3 separate regions of the Homo sapiens genome follow, and regions 2 and 3 are each linked to region 1. Evidence: fine-mapped expression QTL. A gene starts in region 1. Each other region holds a variant in brackets. All regions are shown on one strand. Distances are between the middles of the regions.

Region 1 (5,000 bases):
TTTATTCAAATTTGGTTTTTAAAGAAAATAATGCTTTTGATTAGGAGACTCCACTCAGAAAATGCATCTGTCATTTTCTCCCCTCCTTCCGGGCACTGGATGCCACAGTCTCGGCCCAGAAACCCCTTTGGGGAAGGAGGGCCCACTTCTCAGGCACACAAATACAAGCAGCAAGCTCTGACATAAGGAGGCTAGCTTGCTAAAACTAGTGGCTTATGGACTTATGTTAACAAGCCTGGGGATGGCTTTTTTGGGGGGAGGGTGTTCCTACCACCAGGGAAACATTGCTTATGTCAGGCATATGCGGTATTGAGTTTTGGGACAGTAATGCATTTCTAGTCCTGGTACCTGCGATCATTAACAAAAGCTTATTCTCTCTAGTCTGAAATCCCTTCATTCTAGCCAGAAAGAAAACCTTCAGCATATTTAACCTCCCAATCAGGCAAAGGATAATGCAATAATTAGAAAAGTAGTTATAACTTTAGGGCCATCACACTCTTCTTGGCTTGTTGAGGATTGTTATTATTTACCATCGTGGCCACCTGTCAGTTTCTCTGGATGACAGCCTGGCAGAGCATAGTACTTTTAATATGATTAATGAAGTGCGTAAACCCAAAAGGGGAAACTCTCCCAAGTGCAAGTTCGCGGTGGTGAGCTGCCAGCAGGTAACCCTACCCCTCTCCTGATATAGCGCCTGCATCAGGGTATACCTGATGCACAGACCCAAGGGCAGTGCTGTGGTATCAGATCTACTGGTTCCAAACAGGTGCTGGGCCGGTCACTAACCAAGAACAGTATCTGAGCCCTACCCTCCAAACCCCACCTTCCAGGTCCCCCTCGGAAAAGTTAGCCCGCCACGTTGAACCCCTGTCCAAGCGGCGCTATGCCAAGCTCTCCGGCAGCCTCTCCCCTACCCAATACAGTTAATCTTCTCCTCTTTGTAAACCCCCCAAGTGACGCGGAGCAAAACTTAATCGGTCCAGGGAACCCAGACACGTCTTCCGCGCCGCACGGACTTCCCAGAAGGAGCCTGGAGGCAGGCGCTGGATCCCTCTAGGCACCTCCGTCCCCGCCGGCTCCCCTCCCCCGCGCCCGCTGGGCCACTCACCCGCGTGGGGCATGGTGATGGTCTCGTTGGTGTTGGAGCCCACGTTGAAGATGACCACGGCTGAGGCGTTCTGCAGGAACGCGTTCCGGATCTTATCCCTGTACGTGCAGTTGCCCTTGGGGATGAGGGCTATCCAGTTCTTGCCGCGGGTCGGGGCGGCGAACTTGGTGTTGGGGTCGCAGGCCAGGCGGTCGTGGGCCGAGCTGGCCATGACCACCTCCCCGCGGGCGTCCTGCTTGGGCGAGTGCTCTCCGTAGCGCCCGCACTCCGTCTTCTCCGTGTGCAGCTCCGCGCCGCCGCCGCCCGCCGCCCCGGCCCCGGGGTCCGGCGCGGGCTCGGCGTAGGTGATGTTCACGAAGGCGGTGTACCATTCCTCCTTCTCGGCCACGGTAAAGTCCAGGCAGAGCAGATGCACGAAACAAAAGGAAAGCAGCCATGTTGAGAGAGCCAGACTGCAGCACGCTTGGATGAGAGACATTGCCATCTTTATCCGCCGGGGCCCCCTCCCCGCCCCCGCGCCCTCCCTCCGTCCCGTCCCTCCTCCCCAGCCCCGGCCAACCCCGGGCCGCTGCCTCTCCTCCTGCTGCTGCTCACTCCCGGGCCGGAGGGGCCGCGGCCGGGACGCGCAGCCGCCGCGGGGACCGGATTCCGGGCGAGCGGATGGCGCTGGCCCCTTCCCCTCTCAGCTGTAGCGCGGTGGTTGCATTTTGCTTCTTGGGCGCCCGGGGGGCGCGGGAACAGAGGGCCCGCGGGGCTTGCGGAGGAGTCCTGCTGCCGAGCGTCCTGCTCCTTCGCCCGGCTTCGCCTTCTCTCATAAGGGTGGCCGGGGGCCCACGAACTTGCAGGGTGGCGGCCCTGCGCCCTCCAGCCCCGGCGGGGACGGGCACGATTGCTCGTAGTCTGGGGTGCTGCGGTGCGGGGTGCTGCCCAGGGTGTCCCGGCCGCCGCCACTGAGCGCTGGGGCGCGCGAATCCAGCTGCAGCCGCTGCTGCCCTGCGCCGGTTCCCTCAGGCTGCGGGCGCTGCGCTCCTGATCTCGCCGGTGGCTGCGCCTGGGCACGCACTTGCCGCGGGCGGGGCGGGCTTGGGGACAGTGGGAGCGAGCAGGCAGAGCGGAGTAAGCGGTCCGTGTGTGTGTGTCTGTATGTTTGTGTGTGTGTGTGTGTGTGTGTATAATGTGTGCGTGCAAGGAGGAGCTTAGTGTGATGTCAAAGCCCCTGGGATTCTCTTGCCATGTTCCCTTGGTCTCTCTTTATGGGCAGCAGCGACCCCTGTCGGGTCTCAAATTCAACCTCAATCGGCGACTTAATCTAGGTGGAGGTAAAGAGGAAGCGACCCCTCGACCTTTGAGTACGGGAATAACTTCCTGAGCGTTACATTTAGCAAATGTATGTGCCTCTCGTAAACGACCCTCCCGTTTGCTGGAAGTACTGCCGTGAGCTCCCTGATTACCTGTCCTAAGGCCAAAGTGTAAGGTGGTTTGGTATTGAGGTCCTTCCAAAGCTACCTCTGGAATACCTAGGGCAGTGGCTATCAAATCTTTAGTTTTAAAACTCAGACCGATGGGTCCTGCCACAAAGTTTCTGGTTCAGTAGATCTGTGGTAGGGCCCCAAAAATATGCATTTCTAACAAGTTCCCAGGTGGTGCTGATGCTGCTGGTCTAACAACCATTCTGTTAAGATGGGTATAACAATGGGCTTCCTACTGCCCACCTGGAAGCAAACATCTAACATTCGTTTTCTTATAGAATAGGTGTTTTGTCACTCTGTAAGAAGAGAAACCGGGTGAGACATTTCTGGACTGTGTTTATTCTGATTGTCATGGCTGGGAACAGGGGACTCGCAGCACCAACAGGCAAGGGAGGTTTGTTTGGGTTATTGTTTATAGTGCGCTCTCCAACTGTGCATAGAGATTACAGTAGTCAGCAGACAGTACAGTCCCCCTAGTGTAGTGTTCTTAAAACTGTAGTACAGCAGAGTGCCTTACCAATTAGACGTTTTGGTGGTGGATATCCTTTCCCTTGGCTTGAGATGCCTGCCATATAGTCTCTAAAAATATTTGTTTGATGGTTCTCTATCATTTACATTGTGTTTCCCACCTGATGCTCTTTCAGAGAACCCAGGACCCATTCATGATTTAAATTTAAAAAATGAAAGGCTGCCTTTTCCCCAGGACTTTAGCATGTTTACAGCTCTTCGTTAATGAACGTCCACCAGTACAACTTCTCTTTTTCCGGCAGCAGTACAAACAGCTGATGGCTGTTAAGGGAGGGCAAAGAGCCTCAGCTGTACCCAAATTAGAAGCAGGCACAAGAAGAACTACTTAGAAGAATTTGTCTCTATGGCATTTGATGTGCTGAATTTGTATGTGTTCCTAGCTTATTCATTTTAGAAAATAGGCTTCTAGGCAATTGGGACAGTGCTTTTTATAGCGCTTACTGCCAAGGAGGCAAAAGTGGAGACACCTGGCTGCTGGTTCCTGAACCACCAGAGATCTGAGGGAGGAGTCCACTGCTAGAAACCCCCGGCTAGGTTCTGAGCAGTTGCCTTTAGCAACCCACAGTGTTTCCCCAGTCTTCTTTATCGCTTAGCATTTTTTTTCTCCAGCTGGAAGACTTGGAGAAGCTATGTTATTAAGAATGTGTGACTATCCCTTACCCCTTCTTTCCTTTGGAAAAGTTAGGTGCTAAAGAGATGACAGGGTCAAGGAAATAGCATGGCTGGAAGATTGCTTAATTACAGGGCCATTGGGCTAATAAGTAAAACACTGAGTAAAATAGGAGCGAGGTTTCTTACTGTTGGAGAAGGAATTTACAAATATGGAAAGAAAGAGAGCTGTAAATAACCTTGAGGCTTTAGGGTGGATTAACAATGAGTATGAAATAATTTTTCAAAAACTATATGTATATATATTTATGTGTGTGCACACATATATACCATAGCTCTCTCCATTCAGAGGCCAAAAGCAAAAGGCACATCCAGTGGCCAGAAGATCTTCGTTTCTAAATAGCATCCTCCACGAAAAGCAAGCTGGCTGATTATAGGGCTGACACTGGGAAAGTACAGAGTGAGCCCATAACCTCTTGAAAGGAAATGCTCCAAGCATGATGGGAGTATGTCAAAAAGACAGAAGAGCCAGCTGGAAAGGGCTCCCACTGGCCAAATCTGGGACAGTCTGAACATAAAATAAATGATCCTAGTAACTGATTACAACCTATCTAATAAGGCATGAATCCGTGCTAATGTTAATACAGAAAAATGATGGAGTAAATAAATAGGGAGGAACAGCTCTTCCTTATGGTAGAAATACCTACTGATAAGGATTAATGGATATAGAAAGTCACCATTTGACAAGAGTGTTGTTTGATTTAGGCAGGAGTCATCAATGGATACTAAGGCTGATGAGTAGGTGTTTGATGTGAAGCAGGATATTAGCCTAGTCTTGAAGTATCTTCTGAAAAATACTTATTAATTCAATAAATGGTGAATTTATTGAAGAGGAACCTGGAAGACACCAAGTTGAGCAGGTGATCATGGTGAACATCACCATTTGTAGAATGAGTCCTATCATGTACCTCCTTATGAAATGCACTGGAATTACAGTGTCATTTCTGTCATGTTCCTGAAAAGAACAATACACGGCATGGTCTAGACATAAGGAAACAATGGATAAACCCAGGATGAGAGGCAACCTTCAAAATGAAAAGTTTATATTCTTTAAAACTCTTAAACTTATGAGAGACAGAGAAAAACAGAAGAACTGATCCAAATTGAAGAGATTTAAGAGATGTGACAATTACGTACAATAAATATCCCAGATTGGCTCCTAGACCAGAAAGGAAAAATAAACACTTGGCAAAAATTCAGTGAAATTGGTAGATTGGATGGTATAT
Region 2 (5,000 bases), 180 kb before region 1:
TTAGAGACAATACCTGCTTATATATGGAGTTGTAAATCCCTTACATTGCCCCAAGGAGTTCCAAACCCATGTATTGTAATCCAATGCTCTAACTTGGCCTAGGGAATAAGGAAGACCCTTAGAAGCCCATAAACCTGGGCAGGACTGCTTTGTTTTCCCTCCTCAAGACATACTATTGCTTTTGGCTTTATGACATCATTCTACAGTGAAGGAGACTACTGAAATGAATTCGGGGCTCTGTGTTTTGATTTTAAAAAAAAATTTTATAGAGACAGGGTCTTTCTACATTGCCCAGGCTGGTCTTGAACTCCCTGGCCTCAAGTGATCTACCTACCTTGGCCTCCCAAAGTGCTGGGATTACAGGCATGAGCCACACCACCTATCAACCTTGGGGTTCTGAATACTGGATTTCAGAGGGGTTGAATATACTTCCTGCATTTATACTGTAGACAAGTGGAGAACATAGCTCAGCACATAAAGCTGTCTTGCTTGCAAAGATTCATGAAAAAACTTTCTCAGGTCATAACATCAGGAACAACCATTTTGATTTTATCTCATGGGACACTGGAATAAATTCATTAAATATTACCTGAATATTGTTTCCTTTGCACTGGCTGCTAGAAAGCCCCAACTTAAATTTGAGACCCATTTCTAGTACAAATTTTAGGTAATCCATTTGTGTACTAATTTCATTCTGGCTTCATCTATTTTTTATACACTTATCAGTTTGTCATATTTTCTATACAACTATTTTATTATCATAGCATACGCATTTTATAACAAACTTCATGTTTAATTAAGAAGAGTATAATAACAGATACTGATAGGACAACTGTTAGCATATATTTCCCTTTCCCATCCTTTCCTCTCTTCCACCCTGGCTATAAGAAAAGTTAGAAGCTTCTTTGAATAGCTCCTCACCAAAAAGAAAAGAGGCTGCTATTACCTTGTCACCCTTCTTGATGGTCCTGATCTGGAGTTTGCTGATGGCTTTCTTTGCTGCATCCCCCAGTCGGCGCTGAAAAGCCAAAACGTGCTTGTTAATAATAAAGATCTGTAATTCTTGACTTCATTTCTGATATCATTTAATACACCAGGGCAGCTAGCTCTGAAATCATGCACATGTGGTATGAATGCTAGCAATGACGACTAGAAAAGACAGGGCAGTGGCATTTGTGCAAGGGGGCTCTACCAGTTGAGGTCTATAAAAGACTTCTGCCATAGAGAGAAGTTCTTCATGCCTAGAGTTAAGCAAGTGCATGTGACATACATAGATCCTGCCCTACAGTTCTACAGTGCAGGTTATATGTGCATACACTACCCCCCCCCAAAAAAAAATGAGTTTAGTAATTTGCCACTCTAGCCACTCAATTTGTGACACAGAGATAGCCAATCTGGAGTAGCTGGAGTAAGTGTCATCTCCTCTTTTTGACAATCAGGATTCATTGCTTGGATATTCCTTCCAATCTGCTCATATAGGCATAACGTTGGTTTAAATTTGGTCTGTTCTGTCCTATTCCATCACATTCTCATGTGGCAATTTTACCTCCTTTATGCATGTTTAAGTGTGAGTGTGCATATAGAAAAATACATAAAACATAATGTTCAGTTTAGCAAATAAGTAACCACCATGATCCATGTCAAGAAATAATATATCATTCTCTCCCCATTTTTGGTAGAGAAAATTACCATCATAATGAGCCCTGCAATAATGCAATCAGAGGGTGATGAGGAAAACTGGGAGAAGGATAGGGTGGTGAGTAAATTAAATTTTAATCTGTCAAGCAAAAAAATTGCATGTGAGTTTTCTACATGTTTTATCTTCTTCTTAGGTATATCTATTTCTGGTCTGCAATAGATGTGTATCTGTTGTAGTAAAACAGAAGGACTAAGATTAAGAGAGTTAACATTTAAACACAGACTAATCATTTGCTTTCACTAATTTTGTTCCTTTTGGAAAAAGCACTCAAGCTTCTTGCTTTTCTTTAAAATAGTGAACACATATTAGTGAACAGTTAATATATCCTAGGTGCCATGCTAAAGCTATATATGCATTATCACCTTTGATATTATAATAACTGAGAAAAGCACTATTTAATAGAATGAACTGAGGCTTACAGAGCTTAAGTAAGTTGTCCAATATCATAGAGTTAGTGAAAGGTAAGTCAGAATCTGAATAAAATTAAGTTTGACTTTAAAATCAAAGCTCATCTACCACCCTCACCTTTATTTGCCAAGCCACCCGGTCAACCAATCAGCCAGTCAGCCAACCATCTAACACCTGGCCAGCCAGTCAGCCATCCATCCAACGTCTGGCTAGCCAGCTAACCAGTCAACCAACCATCCAGCCAATCAGAATCACTAAGTATTTACCACGTGGCACTTCTCTAAGTACACAGCAGTTAAAGTCATTAGCAGAAAAGGAGATGTTTTCCTTGTTAATTCATTTTTCTCTTTGATAGTTTGTCCTGCGTATCTAAAATAATGTTGACATTTTAATTAGAAGGATAAGTTTTGGCTGTTTCCTAAAAGGAGACCTATGCCCTTGAGATTTATGCAGAAGTCCATGAGTAGCTAGCAAACTAAGGCAGCAGGCAAAAATAGGAAGAGTCTTTAGTGATAAATACCAGGAAAAACAGGAGAGCGAGAGAAAAAGAACTGAACTGAGGTGAACTAAACATGA[C/T]GGAACTTTCCTCTCCTCTTCTTCTGGTTATTATCTATTCATCCTTTGACTTCAGCTGAAATCATTTCTTCAAGGAGCCCTTCCTAGATGTATCCAACAAGATCCCTCTCATCTAGACCCTGATAGCACTTTGTACCTTTGCACTGTCACGTTTGACATTTGAAATTTGTTTTTATGATCAATTCCTGTTAGATTGCCCTCAGATATGCTCCCTGAGGGCAGGCCTATGCTTAGTTTTTGCTTCACATTGTTCCCTATATCCCCAGCATATATTAATAAAGCTGCCTTCAATAATAGGCAGTCAATCATTCAACATACATATTTTGATCTCTTATTCTGTGCCAAGTATAGCTTTGGGTTTAAAAAAATGGTAATGAAAACACATGTGTGCGCATACACACACGTACACACACACACTCCTATCAACTGTAGTTTAATTTATAATCTAGTGAAAACTCTAAATAATGAGTTAATAAAATCTTAAGCCAAGAGTGGTTTTTTGTTGTTGTTGTTGTTTTTTTTTTTTTTTGCAAGGAAAACAACCTGAGAAATTTAGCCAGTTAACGGGAATATTTAGGGACAAACTATAAGTGATACATATTGTAAGGTAAGCAATCTTGTGGTCCTGGCTTGGCAAACCCAGCCAGTATCAACTGACAGCTGCTCTCCATTGAAGGACCCCGGGGCAAGGACTGAAAGGTATTGAGAAAGGGCTACTAGTTATTGGGAGTAAATGCCACAGACCTGTAGAATATTGTATTTAGAATAAGAATCTGAATCCCAAACAAACAAATACTGTTTTTCTTTTTCAGTCAAGAACTCAGATATTTTTGCAATTGTGTTTAACTGGCATTATATAATATTGCACCTAATTCAATCACTTAAAAAAATTTTTTTTGAAGACTAACCAGAGTAATTAAGTAGAAAAATATATGTTCATACAATGGTCATAGATTATACTCAAAGGGAAATAATTTTTTTTTTCTTTTGAGATGGAGTCTCGTACTGTCTACCCAGGCTGGAGTGCAGTGGTGCGATCTCGGCTCACTGCAACCTCTGCCTCCCAGGTTCAAGTGATTCCCCTTGCCTCAGCCTCCCAAGTAGCTGGGATTACAGGTGCCCGCCACCACGCCTGGCTGATTTTTTTTTGTATTTTTAGTAGAGATGGGTTTCACTACGTTGGCCAGGCTGGTCTTCAGCTCCTGACCTCATGATCTGCCCACCTCATCCTCCCAAAGTGCTGGGATTACAGGCATGAGCCACAGCGCCCGACCAGGGAGCCAACATTTTTAAAAAGCAGGTGAACTAGAAATAATGTTTTCAAAATTCAATTTCTTTTAAAATAATTTTTTAGCAAATGAAATATGCCCTTCTTAAATGTGGGCATGTAGGGGAAGTTCAAAGACTGCATTAAACTTTGGCTGTGTATTTAACTTAACTGTTGGCTACATCTGAATAAAAATAGATGGCTTTTGAAAACATCCGCTCAGTCTCTTCTAGAGAAAAAACGCTTTCCACGCCCTTTTAAAATAATGAAGGCTGCCTTTATTTTTTAAAAATGGCAGGTCCGTTGAGGAAATGTAAAGCAAACTGACGTTAAGGTGACAGGGATTTTGGCTAACAGTAAAGTTAATGGCTAGGGAATTAGAAAGACGAATTCCATTACTGGCATTTGTATGACTGGGCCCTAGAGAGGTTAAAGAAGTTCAGCAGAGGATTAAGTCATTTAGGAGATGGGCTTCCCAAATTAGCAGAATTAATAGATTGAGGGAAAGAGAGTAAAAGAGAAAGTACAGTCACGTATGGCTTAATGACAGGGATACATTCTGAGAAATCCATTGTTAGGCGATTTCGTCACTGTGTGAAATCATGGAAGATTACTCACACAATTCTAGATGATACTGCCAACTATACACATAGGCTCTATGGTATAGCCTATTGCTCCTAGGCTAGAAACCTGTACAGCATGTACTGAATACTGTAGGCAGCTGTAACACAATGGTAAGGATCTGTGTATCTAAACATAGAACAGATACAGTAAAAACAGGATATTATAATCTTATTGGACTACTGCATATGTGTGGTCCATTTTTGACCAAAACGTAGTTATGCAGTGCATGACTGTAATAAAGTCATCTTCAACATCAAGTCTATGAGGCCTTCCTCCTAGAAGCTCTGAGAAATCAAATGATTCACAAAGGTAGGAAGACGTATTTTCCTTAATCATTCTAAAAAATGGTATAATGGTATTCTCTTCCATTCCCTTTCCTGTGACATTCGTTGAGTCAAGCCTCATTCTGCATGTTATTGATAAATG
Region 3 (5,000 bases), 69 kb before region 1:
GCCTCCCAAAAGTACATCGATTTTAAAATCCATTAAAATATTTCAGGAAAGAGAATAAATCTGATAATTATGAGACACAAAAATTAAAGTAGAAATGTTTTAAGTACACTAAATACTTTTCCCAAACAACTTGTAACTGAGTTATCTTTTGATTTCATACAGTTTGAAGACTTAGGAGACACACTTTCATACTACAGCAGAGAAATAACCTTATTAAAACTAAAACAAGGAAATTATATCCATTATGCTCAGGTAACATAAGATGTGGAAGAAACACTATATTCAAATCTGTTTCTTCAATGCATGAAATTATTACTCTTCCTTCTGAGTCTTTGCGTAAAATTCTCTTTGTTTTATGTCTGTATTATACATGTCTGTATTATACATGATATAAAGATAAACATGCATCTTATATATATCTCTCATATATAGGTATGTATATGTATATATATGTATGTGTATATATATGTATGTCTACACACACACACGCACATACAGTAGCAAGTCTGAAAGGTCTACATGCATATAAAGCATCTAGAAGGAAAAAATATCACTCATAATCTTACCACTTAGAGGCAGCACCTTTGTTTTTTTTTCCTTTACATATACAAGATAGTTTAATACACAATAGTGTTCTCTGAACGCTTTAAGCTTGCAGAATATGAAAATATCCTTATCAAGAGCTTCTGCATAAGATTCCTAGGCAGGGATTTGTTCTTTTCTTATTGTTGTTTATCACATTATCTTATATTCTTAATTTTATAATTTCAACGTGCATTTTAGATTCTGGTAATACATGTGCAGGTTTGTCACATAGGTATATTGTATTATGCTGAGATTTGGGGTATGAATGATCCTGTCACCCAGGCAATGAGCACCGTACCCAACAGGCAGTCCTCCAGCCCTTGTCCCCCTCCCTTTCTCCGCCCTCTAGTAGGCCCCAGTGTCCACTGTTCCCATCCTCATGGTCATGTGCACCCAGTGCTTAGCTCCCACTTATAAGTGAGAATGTGTGGTATTCGGTTTTCTGTTCCTGTGTAAATTTGCTTAGGATGATGGCATCCATGTTGATGCAAAGGACATGATTTTATTCTTTTTTATGGCTGAGCAGCATCTTTGAACAACATGACATCTAGCCAGTTGATCTTGTTCCTATGCATTGTTTAGATAGATGAGATTCTACTTTGTAGACGATTTTGTATTCCTTTTTCAGATGACATAATATTTGTTGTTTAAAGAATCTTTTTAAAGACAATTTTAACAATTTATGAACTTATACTATAAATATGAAATGCGTTTAGCAACTTTTTTATTTATAGCATATCTTACCTTCTCACAGAAGGATCTGAATTAAGCAGATGTTATCTCAATGATATAAATAAACAAAATTTCAAAGTTGAAGGAATTCCCTTCCAAAAGGACATGGATTTCCAAATTTAGTGAAGCATCCAAGGTTTACTTAATTATCTTCCTTTCTGTTCTTACAGCCATTTAGGTTATGCCAAAATTTTTCTTTTTGAATAAGCAGATACAGACATAAATATCTTTATGGTAAAGCTACTATTTCCTTATGATACAGTCTCAGAAGTTAAATTAGTAGGACAAATTATATGGACCTTTAAAAAAGATTCTTGATAAAAATAAGCAAATTGTTTTTCTGAAACATTGTGCCACCTTACATTTCCAGTAGCCACCTGGGAAAGGGCTGGATGGGGGTGGACGTTGTTTTATTATAGCTTTTCAAGAAGGACCAGACAAAACTGGGTCTATCAGTAGGAACCAACTAATTATTTAGAACATACTACGCACAAATTATTATGCTAGACTCTCGGGATACAAAAATCCTTTGCAGATTTTACAGATTCTCACAGTTTCATGTGTGTGCCCGTATGTGTGTGTGTCTGTGCATTTGTATGCAGGTTATGTGTGTGTTGGTGACAGTTGTAGGGTTTATAATTACAAAAGTTATATAACCAGTAGTCAGACCCTTTATTCTAGCCAAAGGTTTTGGCCTTAGCCTCTCCTGCTTATTAAACTATAAGAACCATTTTGTAATGAATCAACGACAAAAAGTTCTACAAAAAAAAAAAAAAAAAGGACTGATGGCTTCATAAACAGATTTAATGAAAGTTAAAAAACGGCCTCCTAGTTAAACCAAAGCCTTTCAACATTTCTTTATTTTTCCTTTTTACTTTAAAAGTTCTACTTAATAATTATAAAACATATATTAAACATTTGCTTAACTAATACAGTGCTTGCAACAACCTTATGAATTAAGTGCTACTAATTTTCCCATTTTACATCTGACAAAACCAAGGCCACAAAGCTAGTAAATGGCAAAGGTGAGATCTGAACGTCGTGGACTCCGTAAGAAAACGTACACTACTCTGCCTGGTATATGACAGGCGCTTGGAAAATCTTAACCATTATTGTCTGTGTATGTTTCCGCTTTGGCCTATAGTTTGTAAATATTATGAGGTCAATGGTTTTGTCTAGAATGCCTTGAACACCGCTTGGCTTTTCTCCATTACAATAAAGCTAATCACCAGGCATAGTTGTGCATTCCTGTAGTTCCAGCTACTTGGGAAGCTGAGGCAGGAGGATCACTTGAGCTTAGAAGTTTGAGGTTGTAATGCTCTATGATCACACCTGTAAACAGCCACTGCACTCCAGCCTGGACAGCACAGCACCATCTC[T/TAAC]AACAACAACAACAAAAAATTAAAAAATATAAAGATAATTATGTTTACACTGTACTCATATTAAAAACCACAGCAAAATAAAAGACAAAAACAAAATGGTAACTTGGTGATGGGCAGAAAAGGGAGGGGAGTAGGTATCACTGAAGGGAGAGGTAGTACCCCTTCAAGCGCTATTTGTTGAATTAAAGGCAAGGCAGAGGGTTTGACACTACGATGTAGCTTTATAAGCTACACACTGAACAGCCTGACAATTTTTGTTTGTTTGTTTGTTTTTGAGACGGAGTTTCACTCTTGTTACCCAGGCTGGAGTGCAATGGCACGATCTCCGCTCACTGCAACCTCTGCCTCCTAGGTTCAAGCGATTCTCCTGCCTCAGCCTCCCAAGTAGCTGGGATCACAGGCATGTGCTACTACGCCTGGCTAATTTTGTATTTTTAGTAGAGATGGGGTTTCTCCATGTTGGTCAGGCTGATCTTGATCTCCTGACCTCAGGTGATCTGCCCACCTCGGCCTCCCAAAGTGCTGGGATTACAGACATGAGCCACCACACCTGGCCCTGACAATTCTTAAATAAGTTCTAAGCATGCCATAGGGCTTGATGTCTCCAGATCAGCTTGCTTGTCTACAATCAGCAATTAACCCTTACGTCCTGGGTTACTATCTAAGATTTGGCCACAAACATGCTATCTGTGCGTGAGAGGCAGGGATAGGGAAGAAAAGTGACAGAGAGAAATGTACAATATGAAGGAATTTTCTGAGATTATTGATTTCTGAATGTTTCTGACTCTACTAAAAAATTTATATGAAACTATTAGAAAGAGTTTACAAAATATAGGGAAAAAAATCCTCCTATTTGTAATATATTTCAAGTGTTCTATACCAGGGGTAACTGCTTAGTTAACTTAAGAGGTAGCTCCTAATGAAAGGCAAATTTTATTTATTTGTAATTTTTTTTTTACATTGCGTAGTCTCTGTAAACCTAAGAAAGGCGAATTTTAGAAGGTAGTAAGATGAGCTGTATATGTGCTAGGAAGAAATTCATTGAAATTCATCGTAATTTTTAAGTTACTGAGTCCAGTCCTTAATAATAATAAATATTTCTGGTCATGAGGAAAAACTGACCTTGATGTCCTCAAGACCAGTGGGGTATGATATTAACATTCACCTTTCTCGGTCTACTAAATGCCGACTCCCTCCGCTTGGATGACCTCTGTCTACCCACACACTCATGGAAGGTTCATATGATCCCCCAAATAGAGATGATGTGGAATCAGCATATCTATCTCTATTTTGATGTTGAAATCAGCTGGAATCCTCTCTCTTTATGCAGTAAAATCAGAAAAGGCTTCTTTCCTGAAGCTGCTCCTGTTGAGGTAACACACTGCAGGCATTCTCTGTGCATGGGTGGTTCACATCCCCGGACCTTTCATTCTACTTGTCTTCTAACCCTTCGCCCTCAACACTATTTGACTCATCTGATCCCAGTGTGTTCCATTTGGAGAGGGATGAATCAGCAAAAACTTCCTCCTCCCACTGTTAAATTCTTTTTCCTTATGACCCTTCCCCTCTGGATGCAAGAACATTAGAACAGGGTGCAATTGTTAAAAGCTATCATTTGTTCAGTATATGTGCGAAAAAAAAAAAACCATTCCTCAGTAATTTTCACACTATCAATTATACTTTAAATATGAGAAGCATATATCTCCATCATCTGTAAGATTAGCTCATTTTTTGCAAGGGTAGCAATGTTTCAACAGGGATGGTGTCAAAAGAGATCATTGTACTGTGAACAAATAAGCAAACAGAAATTAGACACTGAAGCCTAATCTTAAAAAATGATGATGCCACCTTATATAATTTTTCAGTGAGTTTACACTTCTAATAACTTTTAAACACAAATACAAATCTGTCTTGATATTAAATGAGTTATGTATATCAATAATATACATGTTCTACAATTTTCTAAGCAAAGAGCTATAGTACCTTAGTAAGCATTCTGCTATGAAATAAGCTGACGATATTTCTACAAATTTTTTTGCAAAGCATATTTTCCCCAAACACTAAAGATACACAAAAGCACAAAACAAATAATGTAGCCTGTTTGGTTGACTACTGACGTAAATTAATATAAAGTCTGAATTATTAGTAATATGTACTGAAAATATACCATGTATGTTTTTAAATAACTTCAGATTAATTACAGTCATGCGTCACTTAACAGGGCTATATTTTGAGAAATGTGTCATTAGTTGACTTTGTTGTTGTGCAAACATCATAAAATGTACTTATACAAACCTAGATGGT

Which allele goes with the higher level. Positions count from the first base shown, and alleles are read on the strand shown. Sizes are in standard deviations (SD) of each study's normalised expression.
For the expression in fibroblasts of the gene that starts at base 2,253 in region 1, T is the low allele of the variant in region 2 and C is the other (small effect, 0.13 SD a copy in GTEx).
With allele T in place of TAAC in region 3, the expression in lung of the gene that starts at base 2,253 in region 1 is lower (small effect, 0.26 SD a copy in GTEx).

What was found. PIP is the estimated chance that this variant, and not a neighbour inherited with it, causes the effect. A credible set is the group of variants that fine-mapping cannot tell apart.
Region 2: its variant is the best candidate, but not a certain one, in a credible set for the expression of RNF150 in fibroblasts (GTEx, PIP 0.55).
Region 3: its variant is the best candidate, but not a certain one, in a credible set for the expression of RNF150 in lung (GTEx, PIP 0.85).

What each region holds. Positions count from the first base shown.
Region 1 is chr4:141,131,217-141,136,216 of GRCh38, forward strand. RNF150 (ring finger protein 150) reads right to left here and starts at 2,253. Exons shown (of 7, transcript NM_020724.2): 1 at 1,109-2,253. The coding sequence starts at 1,592. RefSeq lists a silencer at 2,072-2,191.
Region 2 is chr4:140,948,355-140,953,354 of GRCh38, forward strand. It overlaps RNF150 (ring finger protein 150), which reads right to left. Exons shown (of 7, transcript NM_020724.2): 3 at 947-1,018. Among named protein-coding and RNA genes, the nearest start is that of RNF150, 180 kb to the right of the region's middle. The variant C/T (reference allele first, on the strand shown) is at 2,684.
Region 3 is chr4:141,061,913-141,066,912 of GRCh38, forward strand. The region is part of intron 1 of RNF150 (ring finger protein 150); the gene reads right to left. Among named protein-coding and RNA genes, the nearest start is that of RNF150, 69 kb to the right of the region's middle. The variant T/TAAC (reference allele first, on the strand shown) is at 2,697.